Linked DNA regions of Homo sapiens. The protein of the gene in region 1 purifies or fractionates together with the protein of each later gene. This does not show direct contact. Each region holds a gene or a part of one and is shown on either strand. Other genes may lie near its edges.

The links. The genes of interacting proteins can lie anywhere in the genome.
Region 2: the proteins of MTHFD2 (region 1) and UBP1 purify together in Homo sapiens (affinity purification with mass spectrometry; 2 studies listed by BioGRID and IntAct, with this or other methods). This does not show direct contact.

The regions. Positions count from the first base shown.
Region 1 is NC_000002.12:74,194,126-74,201,664, reverse strand, and holds the start of MTHFD2 (bifunctional methylenetetrahydrofolate dehydrogenase/cyclohydrolase, mitochondrial isoform A precursor), read right to left. Parts: upstream 3,051-7,539; 5' UTR 3,024-3,050; coding exon 2,923-3,023; intron 284-2,922; exon of another isoform or gene 186-283; intron 1-185. UniProt on the Homo sapiens protein: Although its dehydrogenase activity is NAD-specific, it can also utilize NADP at a reduced efficiency.
Region 2 is NC_000003.12:33,395,406-33,402,405, reverse strand, and holds part of UBP1 (upstream-binding protein 1), read left to right. Parts: intron 1-1,389; coding exon 1,390-1,444; intron 1,445-2,123; coding exon 2,124-2,217; intron 2,218-5,270; coding exon 5,271-5,361; intron 5,362-5,527; exon of another isoform or gene 5,528-5,661; intron 5,662-5,889; coding exon of another isoform or gene 5,890-5,896; exon of another isoform or gene 5,897-5,949; intron 5,950-6,125; coding exon 6,126-6,244; intron 6,245-7,000. UniProt on the Homo sapiens protein: Functions as a transcriptional activator in a promoter context-dependent manner. Modulates the placental expression of CYP11A1. Involved in regulation of the alpha-globin gene in erythroid cells.

The DNA.
Region 1 (7,539 bases):
AGATGTGTTTAGAAAAAATTCCCAGGGCTGGGCATGGTGGCACAGGCCTTGTAATCCCAGCATTTTGGGAGGCCAAGTTCAAGACTAGCGTGGGCAACATGGTGAGACCCCATCTCTACTAAAAGTTAAAAAAAAAAAAAATTAGCCAGGCATGGTGGTATGCTCCTGTGGTCCCAGTTACTCACAAGCTGAGGTGGGAGGATCACTTGAGCCCAGGAGGTCAAGGCTGCAGTAAGCCGTGATTGCAGCACTGCACTCCAACCTGACCTAGGGAGAGATTCCCCTGCCAAAAAAGAAAAAAAAAAAGGAAAGAAAAAAATCCCATTAAGATAGGTAATCAACAGAATAGGAAGAAGTCAAGAGGACTGTTCAAATAAAATCCAAAACTGTGGCTCATGCCTGTAATCCCTGCATTTTGGGAGGTCAAGGTGGGTGGATCATTTGAGGTCAGGAGGTCGAGACCAGCCTGGCCAACATGGTGAAACCCTGTCTCTACTAAAAATACAAAAATTAGCAGGGCATGGTGGTGTGCGCCTATAGTCCCAGCTGTTTGGGAGGCTGAGGTAGGAGAACAGCTTGAACCCAGGAGGCAGAGGTTGCAGTGAGCCAAGATTGCACCATTGCACTCCAGCCTGGGCAACAAAGTAAGACTCCGTCTCAAAAAATAAAATAAAATTCAAAACTAAAATCCAAGTGAGTAGCATCTTCACTTTCCTTTTAATTCAATAGCTTACAGTACTGTAATTTTCCATGAGAAATTAGTATCAGGACATTTTACAATTCATAATCAAGTGATTTAGGGAAGAGTTGTTATCAATTATTAATGGGAAAAATAATGAGTGAAGGAAGACATAATGGAGAAAGGAACAAACATCTATTAAACACTAGGTGTTTTGCTTACACTTTAACATATATTACTCTGTTACCTTGGGACTATTATAATAACACTGTAATACAGAAGATGAAACTGAGGATAGTAGAAACAAGATTCAAAGGCAAACTTCTGCCTCTAAAGTCCATTGACTTCCTAATCCCACTGTCTCCTAGGCTACTATTTCTCCAACCATAGGTTTATGTTCCTGAAACTCTCATACCATCCAACAAAGAAAAAAAAAAAAAGAATGCAGACTCATATTTTTAAAAGGATACAACTTTTTAAAAATAAGCAGTATTTAAAAATAAACAGTATTTTAAAAAATAAGCAGCAGTAAGAAAGCAATATGTGGGAATTGTAAATAGCAAATGTGCAGTACAGATAATATGGATTGCTTTCAGAGATGTGGATGAAGCTTACTTGTTCTTTCAGAAAGGTAGTGAAAAGAGCATTTGTTATTGGAGAGTGTAGACAAACTGGCCCAGTTCTTTAGGTAATGAATGAGAGCATCTTTATAAATCTCTTTTGGACCATGGAAGCCTAGGAAAGGTCTGGTCCACAGTCACATGAGGCCAGCACTCAGGAAGAGGGAGAAGGGGAGAAAACACACAGTAACGAAACATGGGGGAGGTCAAGAGTCAGACCAGGGAAAACCCTGAAAGTCCCCTCCCACGTTTTCCTTCAAGAACTCATTGCTCCAACAAGCAGCGCCTTTGAAATATTTCTAACAGCATTTCCGCACTGACTGGAAATTACACGCGTGTTCTGCCCCTTGTCAGGAACATGAGCTCCATTAAGAACAGTTTTTCTCATCTTTGAATTCGCACAGCTTGGCATAGTGTCTGGTACACAGTGAACGTTAGATGAAAAAAAGAAGGGGCTGATGTTGTAAGGTGCAGGGCTCTAACAATGCCAACAATGCCAGCGCTCTAATGACCGACCAAATCACCTTCCCAAGGAAACCCAAAAATGCAAACAGAGCTTTTCCTTTCCTCCTCCCCTGTATATTTTTCCCAATTTTGTTATTGTGGTAAAATTCACATAACATAAACCTTATCAACTTTTTTTTTTTTTTTTTTTTTTGAGACAGGGTCTCGCTCTGTCGCCCAGACTGGAGGGCAGTGGTGCAATCACGGCTCACTGCAGCCTCGAACTCCTGGGCTCAAGCGATTCTCGTGCCTCAGCCTCGGCGCGTGTCACCACGCCCGGCCCATCTTAACCATTTTTAAGTGCAGTTCAGTGGTATTAAATACGTTCATATGTTGTGCAACCATCACCACCATCCATCTTCAGAACTCTTCATCTTGTAAAACTGAAATTCTGCAAGTACCGCTGAAATATGGGTACTTGTCACTCTCCATTCCCCCTTTCCCTAAGGCCCTGGGAGCCTCCCGGATGTTTGCCACCTCTATGTACGCAGCCCGGCACTGACAGGCTCTGGTGGGCTGCAGCCAAAGCTAGGGTGCCCAGAGTCCGTTCATGTTCCTGGCAGAGCGGAGGCAGCGCGGGCCACTCCCACCGGCGGAGGGAGGAGGGCGGCGCGGGGACCCCGAGCAAGTCGGCTCCGCGATTTCATCAGCTGCAGCAGCGCCCTCCGCCGCTAGGGTCCCCGCAAGGACAACTCGCCGAGGGCTGCTCTTTTGGAACCCTCGCCTGTTCTCCCCCAGACGACTCTCAGCATCCCAGCCAGAGGCGGCCGGCGCTGTCGGAAGGCTCCGCGTAAACTGATGCCTTCGCGTTCCGCACGCCACCCCCGTCCCGCCCGCCGACTGGCCACGGGCCCCGGCGACGCCCCGAGTCGCAGGAGAGCGGCTCCCTCCGAAAGGCGGGCTTCGGGTACCAGCCCTCCGCGCCGAGGAAGCGCCCCAGTCGAGAGCTGCGGCGGCGCTCGGTGCCACGTCGCCCCGCCACACCCCTCAGCGGCCACCACCGCCGGGGCGGAGATGTTCGGGAAGGACTTCCCTCGGTGTCCCTCGGGGGCCCGGCGTGCCCCTCGCCCTCCGTTCCCCTCAGCTTTCCGCGCTGACCGAGCTCTGTGACCCTCTTACCGAACTGCCGCGAGGTGGAAAGGGCGAAGGCGAAGGGAGCAGCTGTGCGCGGGCTGCAGCAGCCGGGCAGCCAAAGCAGACATTAGAGAAGTCGCAGCCATAGACCGCGCCGGTGACTGCGCCGGGAGGGAAGCGCGCGCGCGGGCCACGCGGTTATACTGCGGCCTCGTGGCAGGCCCCGCCTCCCTCCGCCACCCATTGGTCCCTGCCGCATGCCACTGGCTGTCTGTTGAGCCAGGTGGAGCCGAAGGGGCCAACCGGTTTTCTTTATTAAACGTAAGCGAAGTCCGAAAGAGCCCTGCTTTTGATTGGAGCCAGAAGAGCCTGGAGCGAGGTCCTGTAAGGCGCTGAAGCCTCGGCAACGTGCCATGATAGGCTGAGGAAGTCAAACTCCTGCCTGACGCCGCTAGTGTCACCGAAGGCCGGACAACACAAGAGAAAAGTTCATTCATTCATTCGTTGAACAATTATATGAGCGCCTACTGTGTGCCAAGCACTGTAAAGGGTGGATGAAAAGACAAGCTGATAGAATGCCAACGAACAGAAGTAAAAGGAATGATGGAGTTAGAAAATCACCATTTTCCAAAATCAGTACATGGTGGCGCGTGACTACAGTACCAGCTACTGGGGAGGCTGAGGTGGAAGGATCACCTGAGTTCAGGAGGTTGAGGCTGCAGTGAGCTGAAGGCGCGCCACTGCACTCCAGCCTGGGCGACGAGAGTGAGACCATATCTCAAAACAACAACAAAAAAAGTAAAATCATAAAAGATATTCAGAGACAGACGTCAGGGTTGCATGTGCAACCCTGATTCAGAAGCAGCAATAGATGTCAAAACAACTGGGTGAAAGTTGGATGAGGAGCAAGATATTTACATATAGGGTTGCCAGATCTAGCAAATAAAAACACAAGATGCCCAATCAAATCAGAATTTTAGATAAACACTTTGGGAGGTCATATTTATACTTTATTTATGGCTTATCTGGAATTCAGATTCAACTGGGCTTCCTGTATTTTTTCCCGCAAACTTTTTGCATAGTCTCAAAGTATCTCTCCCGCAAGGAAACTTAAGGAGGGCAGGGCGCGGTGGCTCACTTCTGTAATCCCCAGCTCTTTGGGAGGCCAAGGCGGACGGATCACCTGAGGCCAGGAGTTCGAGACCAGCCTGGCCAATGTGTTGAAACCCCCGTCTCTACTAAAAACACAAAAAATTATCTGAGCATCGTGGCGGACGCTGTAATCCCAGCTACTGGGGAGACTGAGGCATGAGAATCGCTTGAATCTGGGAGGCAGAGGTTGCAGGGAGCCGAGACTGTGCCACTGCACTTCAGCCTGGGCAACAAAAAGACTCTGTCTCAAAAAACAAAACAAACAAACAAAGAACAGGGGAAACCAATCCTGTCAACACCTTGACCTTTACTTCTAGCCTCCAGGAAGGAAAGGAAAATGGTAAATTTACAGTGAAGAAACATGACAGTTACTGCTTCAACCACGTGATCAAAGTTAGCACCACCCAGTAAGGGAACACACATATATGCCTTCTGATAGGATCCATTGAGGAGACACATCACTTCGTAGCTCTTAACAAGTCTGTAAATTTAATAAGGTGATTTTCCTAAACCAATGAGTCTCCTAAAAACGGTTACAGATTCCTCATTTCACATTGAGAAGAAAGATCACAGACCTAGAATGTTAAAACTGTCCAGGAAAAAAAACAGTTGTAAAGCTTTGGAACACACTAGTAGATCTTAATCTATTCACAAGGAAATATCAGACAAGCCCAAAGTGAGAGATATTCTACAAGATAAATTGCTTGTACTCTTGACAGCTCCAAGGCCATGAAAGACAAAGAATGAGAAACTGTTCTCCATTAAAGGAGCCTAGGCATGACAGCTAAATGCTGTTTGATTCTGGATTGGATTCTGGACCCAAAACTTTTTGTCTTTCTTTTTTTCTCTTTCTTGCTTCTTTTTTTCTCTCTTTTGCTATAGATGACATTATAGGACAATTGGCAAAATATGAATAAAGTCTGCAACTAGCTAATAGCATTTTATCAGTGTTAGCTAATCGCATGCAGTAATGTAAGAGAATATATTGCACTTGCTTCTAGTACTAAAGGACCATGTCTGTAACTTACTTTTGAATAGTTCAGAAAAAAATAATGCTTTGTATGTATAAGTTGGCTAGGGCTGCCATAACAAAATAACACAGACTGAGTCATTTAAACAACAGAAATGGGCTGAGTGCAGTGGCTCACGCCTGTAATCCCAGCACTTTGGGAGGCTGAGGCAGGCGGATCACCTCAGATCAGGATTTTGAGACCACCCTGGCCAACATGGTGAAACCCTGTCTCTACTAAAAATATAAAAATTAGCCAGGCATGGTTTCACATGCCTGTAATCCCAGCTACTTGAGAGACTGAGGCAGGAGAATTGCTAGAATCCAGGAGGCCGACGTTGCAGTGAGCCGAGATCGCACCACTGCACTTTAGCCTGGGCAACAGTGAGACTCGATCTAAAAAAAAAAAAAAAAGAAAGAAATGTATTTTCTAACAGTTCTGGGGGCTAGAAGCGAAGGTCAAGGTGTTGGCAGGATTGGTTTCTCCTGAGGCTTGCAGTCCTTGGCTTACAGAGGGCTGCATGCCTGCTGTGTTATGGCCTTTTCTGTGTGTGCACATGCAACCCTGACGTCTCTCTCTGAATATCTTTTATTATTTTACTTTTTTTGTTGTTGTTTTGAGACATGGTCTCACTCTCGTCGCCCAGGCTGGAGTGCAATGGTGCGCCTTCAGCTCACTACAGCCTCAACCTCCTGGATTCAGGTGATCCTTCCACCTCAGCCTCCCCAGCAGCTGGTACTGTAGTCATGCGCCACCACATCAGCCTAATTTTTTGTATTTTTAGTACAGACCGGGCTTCGCCATGTTGCCCAAGTAAGCCTTGAACTCTTGGGCTCAAGGAATTCACCTGTCTTGGCCTCCCAAAGTGCTGGGATTATAAGCATGAGCCACCATGCCCGGCCTCTCCGAATGTCTTAATCTCCTCTTATAAAGAAACCAATCAGATTAATTTAGAGCCTACCCTAACAGCCCCATTTTAACCATTTTAATCATTGTTTTAAAGGCCTTATTTCCAAATAGAGTCACATTCCAAGGTCAGAGTGTCAACACTGAATTTTGGAGAGGATACAATTCAGTCCATAACAATGTATATACATAAAAAAAAAACCCATAAAACAAGTGGCAAATGTAAAATATTAACAAGTGGGGAAGAGTATACAAGTATTCTTTGAACTTTTCCTGTAACCTTTCTGTATGTCTGAAATAATGTCAAAAATTTTTTAAAAGACCAGTAATTTTTTTTTCTCTTCTTTTCTTTTTCTTTTTTTTTTTTTTTTTGAGATAGAGTCTCACTGTGTCACCCAGGCTGGAATGCAATGGCATGATCTTGGCTCACTGCAACCTCCGCATCCTGGGTTCAAGTGATTCTCGTGCCTCAGCCTACCAAGTAGCTGGGATTACAGGCATGTGCCACTATGCCTGGCTAATTTTTGTATTTTTAGTAAAGATGGGGTTTCCCCATGTTGGCCAGGCTAAAAAGATCAGTAATATTTATGCCCTTATGGGGCATGGAGTGAGGCAGGCATACAATGAATAAGAGACTAAGAAAAAGAATGTGATGCTGAGAGCCCACAAAACAATGGATATGGAAGGTTTAGAGGTCAGAGAATGGCCTACAGGTTATATAACTGGTGATAAGACTGGGTGTGATAATTTGCAGATCCTGTCCCCAGTACGCTGTGGGGAGGAGGCACCTTAGAGTTACTTGAACCTAGCAACAGTGATTGAAGAGGGAAAGGAAATACACATTTCCCATCTTTTAAGGAAACTAACCCTCCATCCCTCTGCAAAATTTGGGAAATTTTCTTTTCCCAAAATGTGAACTTTCAGGAATGAATTGAAACCGCCTTTGCAAACATTGTTAACAGCGATCTAACATTTAGTTAGACCACTTTCATTAATGATCTGATCTAACCAACTTCATCTTGCCTTTAACTTCCAAACTTCCCTTGGTCATTCCTGGGCATGGACAAAACTATCCTTGAAACACCCAAACTTTCTGGGAGGCTGATTTGAGTAATAATAAAACTCTGGCCTGGCGCGGTGGCTCATGCCTGTAATCCCAGCACTTTGGGAGGCCGAGGTGGGTGGATCACAAGGTCAGGAGTTTGATACCAGCCCGGCCAACATGGTGAAACCCCGTCTCTACTAAAAATACAAAAAAAAAAAAAAAAAAAAAAAAATTAGCCAGGCATGGTGGCATGCACCTGTAATCCCAACTACTCAGGAGGCTGAGACAGGAGAATTGCTTGAACCCGGGAGGCGGGAGGTCACAGTGAGCCACTGCGCTTCAGCCTGGGTGACAGAGCAAGACTCTGTCTCAAAAAAAAAAAAAAAAATTCCAGTCTTCGGTTTAGCCAGCTCTCTGTGTATTAAACGCTCTCTGTATTATAATTCCTGTGTCTTGATAAATGGGCTGTATCTAGGCAGCAGGCAAGATGAGCCCACTGGGGAGTTACGAAACCCATGTGTGAACATTATTATATATTTTTAATATGCT
Region 2 (7,000 bases), on another chromosome or scaffold:
TTTCTTTTCTCTCCCAATAGATATGCTATTTTTTTAATTAAATCTTTAAAGGAAGACCTTTCGGTTTCTACAGACTTGCTGTGGTTTTAGAAATGGAAATGGTGGACTCTTTATTCTGTTATCCAGCCTTGACTGGCAAGAGTCTAGAGTAAGCTCAGGGTGGGAGCAAGAGACTGCATTTGGGGCATCTTGAAGGTACAGCAGTACCCCATGGCGGCTTTCCATTCTAGGGCTTTGCTGCAGAACTAATGCAGAGTAGTTAGCATCAGAAGTTCCCTATTTTTAGGAAGTTTCTTGTTGGGGAGGAAAATTATGAAAGCTAAGATCACAAAGAAAAAGGTTCTCCGGTCATGCTGACAAGGTCTGATGAGAAAGCAAGCAAAAATGTGCTCTCCCCCTGAGGAGATGGATAAACTGAGAAGGCAGCTTGTTGTCATGTAGGCTATTATGCTTTAAGAGTAGAAAAATAGCCTTGGACTCAGAAAATTAGAGGAGTGACCAGAGGACCAGTAGGTTACCATGTCTGAGGGCTTAGAATAGTTTCCTAGTCAGTCAGTCCGGTCTGAATAATCTTAGAAAATGCTTATGGCTTTAAAGGTGAGCTGTAAGTTTATGTACTCACTAGTAGACTGGAGAACTTATTGTGTTCCCAGCACTGTTCTAAGTGTTCTGATACATTAGTGCCCAAACAGACAGACCCCCGTCTGAAGGAGCTTAAGTTCTTATGGGTAGAAAGGATATAAATAATCAAGATAATAAACCTAAGCAATTGAGGCACGGGGGCTAAGAAAGGAGTCGGTGCTCAAGAGCCAGAAGGTAGCCCTATTCCCTGTGGAGCTGTTTTTCATTTCATTTTACTTAGAAGCACAAGGATAGTGGTACAAGTTAATTTCTTTTGTTCTCTTGAAATTCACCCTCATCAATCTTGGATATATGTATTACTTAAAGGAGTATCATTTTATATTTTTGCTTAGGGTCATTGTACTATTTCTTGTAGCTCATTTTTTTTGCAATTATTTTCAACTATTTATCTAATTTGATGTTTCATATTTTTTCCCCTAACTTTTAAAAATTAATGTGTATCCTTCATTTTCCTTGGCATCCCTGAAGATAATTGGGGAAGCCCTTTTGTTTCACAAAACTTGAATTTCTTACTAGTACAGATGAAGAAGGCACAAATTAAGACACAGTCTTCTGTGTCTTAATTTCGTCATCATGTCCACACCCTAAGCTGTTGCGCTTGCATTTTGTTGCAGACTTTCATAGCTGTCTCCCACTGTTGCCTTACTTGAAATTTGCATAGTTACAATGCAACAGCTTTTAATGCCTTGATTAAAACATATATGTATTATAAAAATCATCATTTCCTTCTTTCTCCTTTCTCCCCAGCAATTCTTCTTCCCCAAATCATCAGGGAGATGGAGCTTCACAGACCTCTGGTGAAGTAAGTATCTTTCTCCTAAAACTATCTGATGCTTTCAGGGTTCTACATTTTAAAGTTTTGGTTTTTGTGCAAATGTATGGAGTAGGTGAGAAGTTTTGTTACATGTATGGTAATGTGTGGTAATCGAGTCAGGATATTTTGGGTGTCCATCACCTGAGTAGAGTACATTTTTTTAGGTATAGTCATCCTACTCTGCTACGAAATACTGAATTTACTCCTTCTGTTTTATTGTATGTTTGTTTGCACCCTTTAATCCAGTTCTTCTCATCCTCTCTCTTATCCCTCACCCATTCTTCCCGGTCTCTGTTACCTATTTTTCCACTCTCTCCCTTCATGTGTTCAAATTTTTTTAGTTCCCACATATAAGTGAGAATATAAGTCTTTCTGTGCCTGGCTTATTTCACTTAAGACAATGAAATGTTCATGTTGTCCATGTTGCTGCAAAAGGTGATTTCATTAGCAGCGGCATGATTTTTCTCTTTTTTTATGGCTGAATAGCATCCCATTGTGTATCATGTTTAAGTTTCTGACAAGGGCCTGCATCATTTGGGTTGCTGGAGTCAGACTCATGCTCTTTTTGGGTGTTTTTTACTTCAGACTCCGAGGCTTTCTGTGTTTTGTTTAAATGTTCTAAGTCTGAATGGTTCCTTTTATTTATGTTCATTTTCATTGTTAATAGCAAATTCAGCCTTCAGCTACGATCCAGGAAACACAGCAATGGCTGCTCAAAAACAGATTCTCTTCCTACACAAGACTGTTCTCTAATTTTTCAGGTATGTGTATGTGTGTGTGTATCTGTGCATGAGAATGTTTTGTTTTTGTTTCTGTGCTTTTATTAACTTTATATTTTTAAAATTTTGAAATAACTATGGATAGGAAGTTGCAAAGAAAAATGTACAGAGAAGTTCTTTATATCTATCCCCCAATAGGAATATCTTGTATTTTTATTATATGCTATTGAAGCCAGGCAGTTGACATTGGTTCAGTCAGCAGTTTTACCAGACTTACGTGACCTCATTTGTGTGTAGGTGTATATAGTTTTACATGATTTTTTTCATTTTAACTTTATTTTGAAATAATTTTTGTTTTACAGTAAGTTACAGAGCTAGTACAGTGATATTTCGGTGTACTCTTCACTCCGTTTCTCACATAATTATAGTACAATAGCAAAACCAGGAAACTGACATTGGCACAACGTATGTTATGGTATAGATATTTGTAACCACCACCACAATTAAGATGACAGGATTGTGCCATCACTACAAGGATCTCCCTCCTGCTACCCCTTCGGAGTCACACCCACACCCTTCCCCCACCATCCCTAGTCCTTGGCAACCACTTTACATTCTGTCTATAATTTTGTCATTTTGAGAATGTTATATAAATGCAATCATATAGTATATAGCCTTTTGAGATTGGCTTTTTTTCACTAGCATAACGGCCACCTAAGTTGTTGTGTTTATCAGTAGTTTAATCCTTTTTACTGCTAAGTAGTGTTTCATAGTCTGAGTGTACTCAATTACAGTTTTTATATACTTATGGGTAAGTTTTTTTTCTTGCACAGTAAGCTAAGGGAATGTTAAGAAGGAATTTTAAAAGGTATCAAGCACTGCTTCTCCAGGTAGTGCTATAGGAAACCTGTTTAGAGGGACAGTAATAGATAATGACAGGTGGGGCAGAGGTAGCATTTCCCAAATATATTTGGCTCTGGGACTCTTTTCCAACATGACCACCTAGTAACATGGCCTGGCCAAACATCCTGAGAAGTGCTGGATCACAGTAAAGTGGTAGTTAGCATTCCTTCACCTGCAGTGCAGTAGGGCCATTAAAACACAACTTTGTGAATCCCTTTAAGAGGACAGAACTTGTGTGTGCACACACTCAGCCTGAAGAAAAGCTTGATTTTGCTAAGAACATGGTTTCTTACTATGCCACGTATTGTAATGTTTGTGCAATGAGTAGTTATTCCCCGTGTACTTCTTTGTCTCTTTAAAGTTCCCTATGGAGGTCATTTGCTAGCTGGGGACTACATTTTTATATGATTAAGTAAAGCCTTTTATGTGTGAAAAACTAGAAATTGTAAAATTTCAGGGTCGGGGAGCTGGGGTTTGTCTTGCACTGTTGTATGGAAGGCAGATGAAAAGCATAGCACATAGAAAAAGCGCCGACATTTGGAACTGAAGGAGGCCCCACATTACTCCTTTTACATCAGGCAAATCCATGTTTCTATCTGGTGAGTTTTAATCCCTTTCGCTGTGAGCAGTGATCACATGGCGTGGCCTTCTGCCTTTTCCTTATCCTGGGGGCTTCTTCCAAGAAAGTGGGCGAGGAGCTAGCCATGGTACCCTTTGGGCACATCTCCTGAGTCACAGCACTGACAGTAGCATGGTGAGGAGGACAGTGAGTCTTCTTGCTCTGATCCTTGGGGGCATTCACATTTCAGGAAGGGTTGTACATTGCAGTTATCTGTCCAGTTCTCTGTATGGGTTAAGGGTGTGCACACACATACACAGTACTCTCTGGTCACAACTGTGAGGTGCATGTAGTAAGCCCTAGTAGAGAGATGAAAGAGAGCCTCTTTGCTTACCTGACTCTATAAAATGACTCTATTAATGCTCATGTCTCATGGGAGATGTGCTTCTCTGATCTTTGTTTTACAGACTAGAAATTTAGTAGGCTATTGCATTTGAGCCTTTAAAAAATAGAAAGATGACTCCATTATCTTCTACATATGTAAGTGGCTATTTATCATATGGAAGTCAAGCCTTCATCCCAAAGTTCATCTTAATTCCCCCAATAAACTGTATCCTGGGTGTTAGAGAATAAAACAAAAGATTATGGATACATTCAGACATTAAAAAGTAGAGAGAATATGATGAACTCCCATGCAGCCATCTCCTACCTTCAAAAACTACCAGCATTTGGTCAGTCTTGCTCTCCACTATTTCCTCTCCTGCCTTCTGTTGTATTTCAAAGCAAATCCTAGATGCCATATCATTTATGCTTGAAATACTGAATAGTAGTTCATGGTGTGTATGTACTCAGGTATGGCTTTTTTATACTTATATGTAAGTTTTTTTTTCTTGTATGGTAAGCGAAGGGAGTGTTCAGATAGAATTTTTAAAAGTGTCAAACACTGCTTCTCTAGGTGGTGCTATAGGAAACCTGTATAGAGAGACATTTACACTTGTAAATGACATCGTAAGTAGGATGTGCTTGGGGGAAATCTTAGGGTATAATGTGTGATTCTCTGCCATTCTTCTGTTAAAATTAGCTGCTGTGACAGAGTTGTTTATGTTATAAAATTTAACATGTTTGACTTTACATTGCACGTTTCAGAATAAAGAGGCCCAGTCCTAGTTCGGCTACCAACTCTTACAGACTTTAGGCAAGTCCCACAAACTCTGGACTTCCATTTCCTTTTTTTTAAAATTAAAGATTGACTGGCCCGGGTGATCTCAGGGTTTGTTTCTGTGGGGTGGGTTAGAATCATGTTTCTTCACATAGCCACAACCCAGTCACTAAATAAGGTAGATGAGTGAAATCCTATATCGGGAAGAGTTCTTTAGGCCCTGCTCTCATTGATTTGATTCATCAGCCTCAGGACTTCTAAGCTCCTTCTTGATACAGGACATGGAAAAGCCAGCATTTTCCTTGGCTCTGAAGGACAGGTGTCTGTTTGTCTTCTTATATTGTTCATGTGTATGTGTGTATTCAGGATATCTGATTATTTTGAAGGACATTGGACTGCATGAAGACAGATGCCTGTAAAGCAGTTCTGTTCTTTTTCCATTTATTTGAGAAAAATATTTTTGCTCTTCTCTAGGTGCCGACTTATTAAAACTGACAAAGGAGGATTTAGTTCAAATTTGTGGTGCAGCCGATGGAATTCGGCTCTATAATTCACTGAAGTCAAGGTAAAATACTGTGAACTGTTTTGCTTGAAATAAGAATGTACCTTTCTTCGCGTGGGGAATTTGGGCAGAATGTGTTTCCACGCTAGGTTGGCGTGTGTGCCTGTGTGCGCCATCGAGCATTGGCAGCATTGTGCTCACAAGAAGACTGTTTTGTGTACACCTTCAGGGCAGGCCCAGATATGATGCAGGCACTGATGAGGGCAGAGGTAGACTGTAAGACTGGTAGAAATGCACATGGGCAGTACTGATTTCTTGAAGACGACTGGGTTTGTTGCCAAGAAAACAAAACTTCTAATTTAGGTGAGCTATACAGAATCTATGGTTTTCAAGGTCATGACTATTACTAAACAGTTATTAAAAATGTAAACTAATTGTGAATTAAAATGACAGAAACTGTAAATTGTGCTGGCTTGTAAGAACCATTTACTATCATTGCTCTTTCTATACTTGTGGTGTGAGAATTCCATTAAAATTGAATCTTACTGATTTTTAATTTGCTGACTTAATCTTGAAACTTAAATTTACCAGCATCTGACAGACCATCTCAATGGTTTAGAGTCTGGATCATCATATTAGACCACCTGTGATAGTTGGTGTGAGGTGTGTGGTTTTTATATTTTTATTAGTAAATTACTTTGTATAACGAAATAACATTATAAAGTTCTCATAAGGAAATAGAACTTAGATTCCTGTAGTTGTCATATTTGTACATGTGTAAGGCAGCTTTCTCTCCCAGGCTCATCAGTGGCATCTTCTGATTGCAGGTCGGTTAGACCCCGTTTAACCATCTATGTCTGCCGGGAGCAGCCAAGCAGCACAGTGCTGCAAGGGCAGCAGCAAGCTGCAAGCAGTGCAAGCGAGAATGGCAGTGGGGCACCCTATGGTAGGTATTGAGGGCATCTCAATTCTGTCACTTCTGAGACTGTCAGACAGAAACGGAAAGGACTCGATTGAGCAGGCTTTGGAGAACTCTTGCTGTGTTAGGAATGCCAAGTTGCTCATGTGGGAGCCTTGACAGCAATGAGAGGTGGCAGCTCTAGGGTGAAGTCCTTGGGAGAAGAGGAAACTGGCATTCTTTCTCAGTCATTGCAGCCACACTATGGGTCTGTTTTTCATGTGGCCCTTCATGCCGGAAATATCTAACAAGTGGAAAAACTAGCTTGAATGCATTGAGTTCTGGCTTTTTTTTTTTTTTGGTCAGATTTACTGAAATGATGAATATAACACTGGCAGCTTAACAAAAAAGCAGGAGGGTTTTTCTTTCCTTTTTCTTTTTTTTTTTTTTTTTTTTTTTCAATTTTCCTGACTAGGTATGGGGAGAACTCTTAAAGCATAACATATGTGCAACAGTGCCTGCATGTAATAGTCCTAAGTGTGTGGACTTGTCACTGACAAGTGTTCGGCCAGCATTGTGCACCTTGTGTGGCGCGTCTGGTGCCGTGTTTTTATGTCACTGTAAATAATACTACCCAGTACGTTATCTTGGGAGGGCTTCTCATCCTGAGCATTTAATTGTACGGTATAGTGCTGGATTAGGACAGAGATAATCTTGGCTTCTCCCTCTTCTCACCTCTAAATATGGCCCTTAAAAAAAGCAAGCATTTTAAAAGGCATATATTTTCTCATTTATTGTATGGAT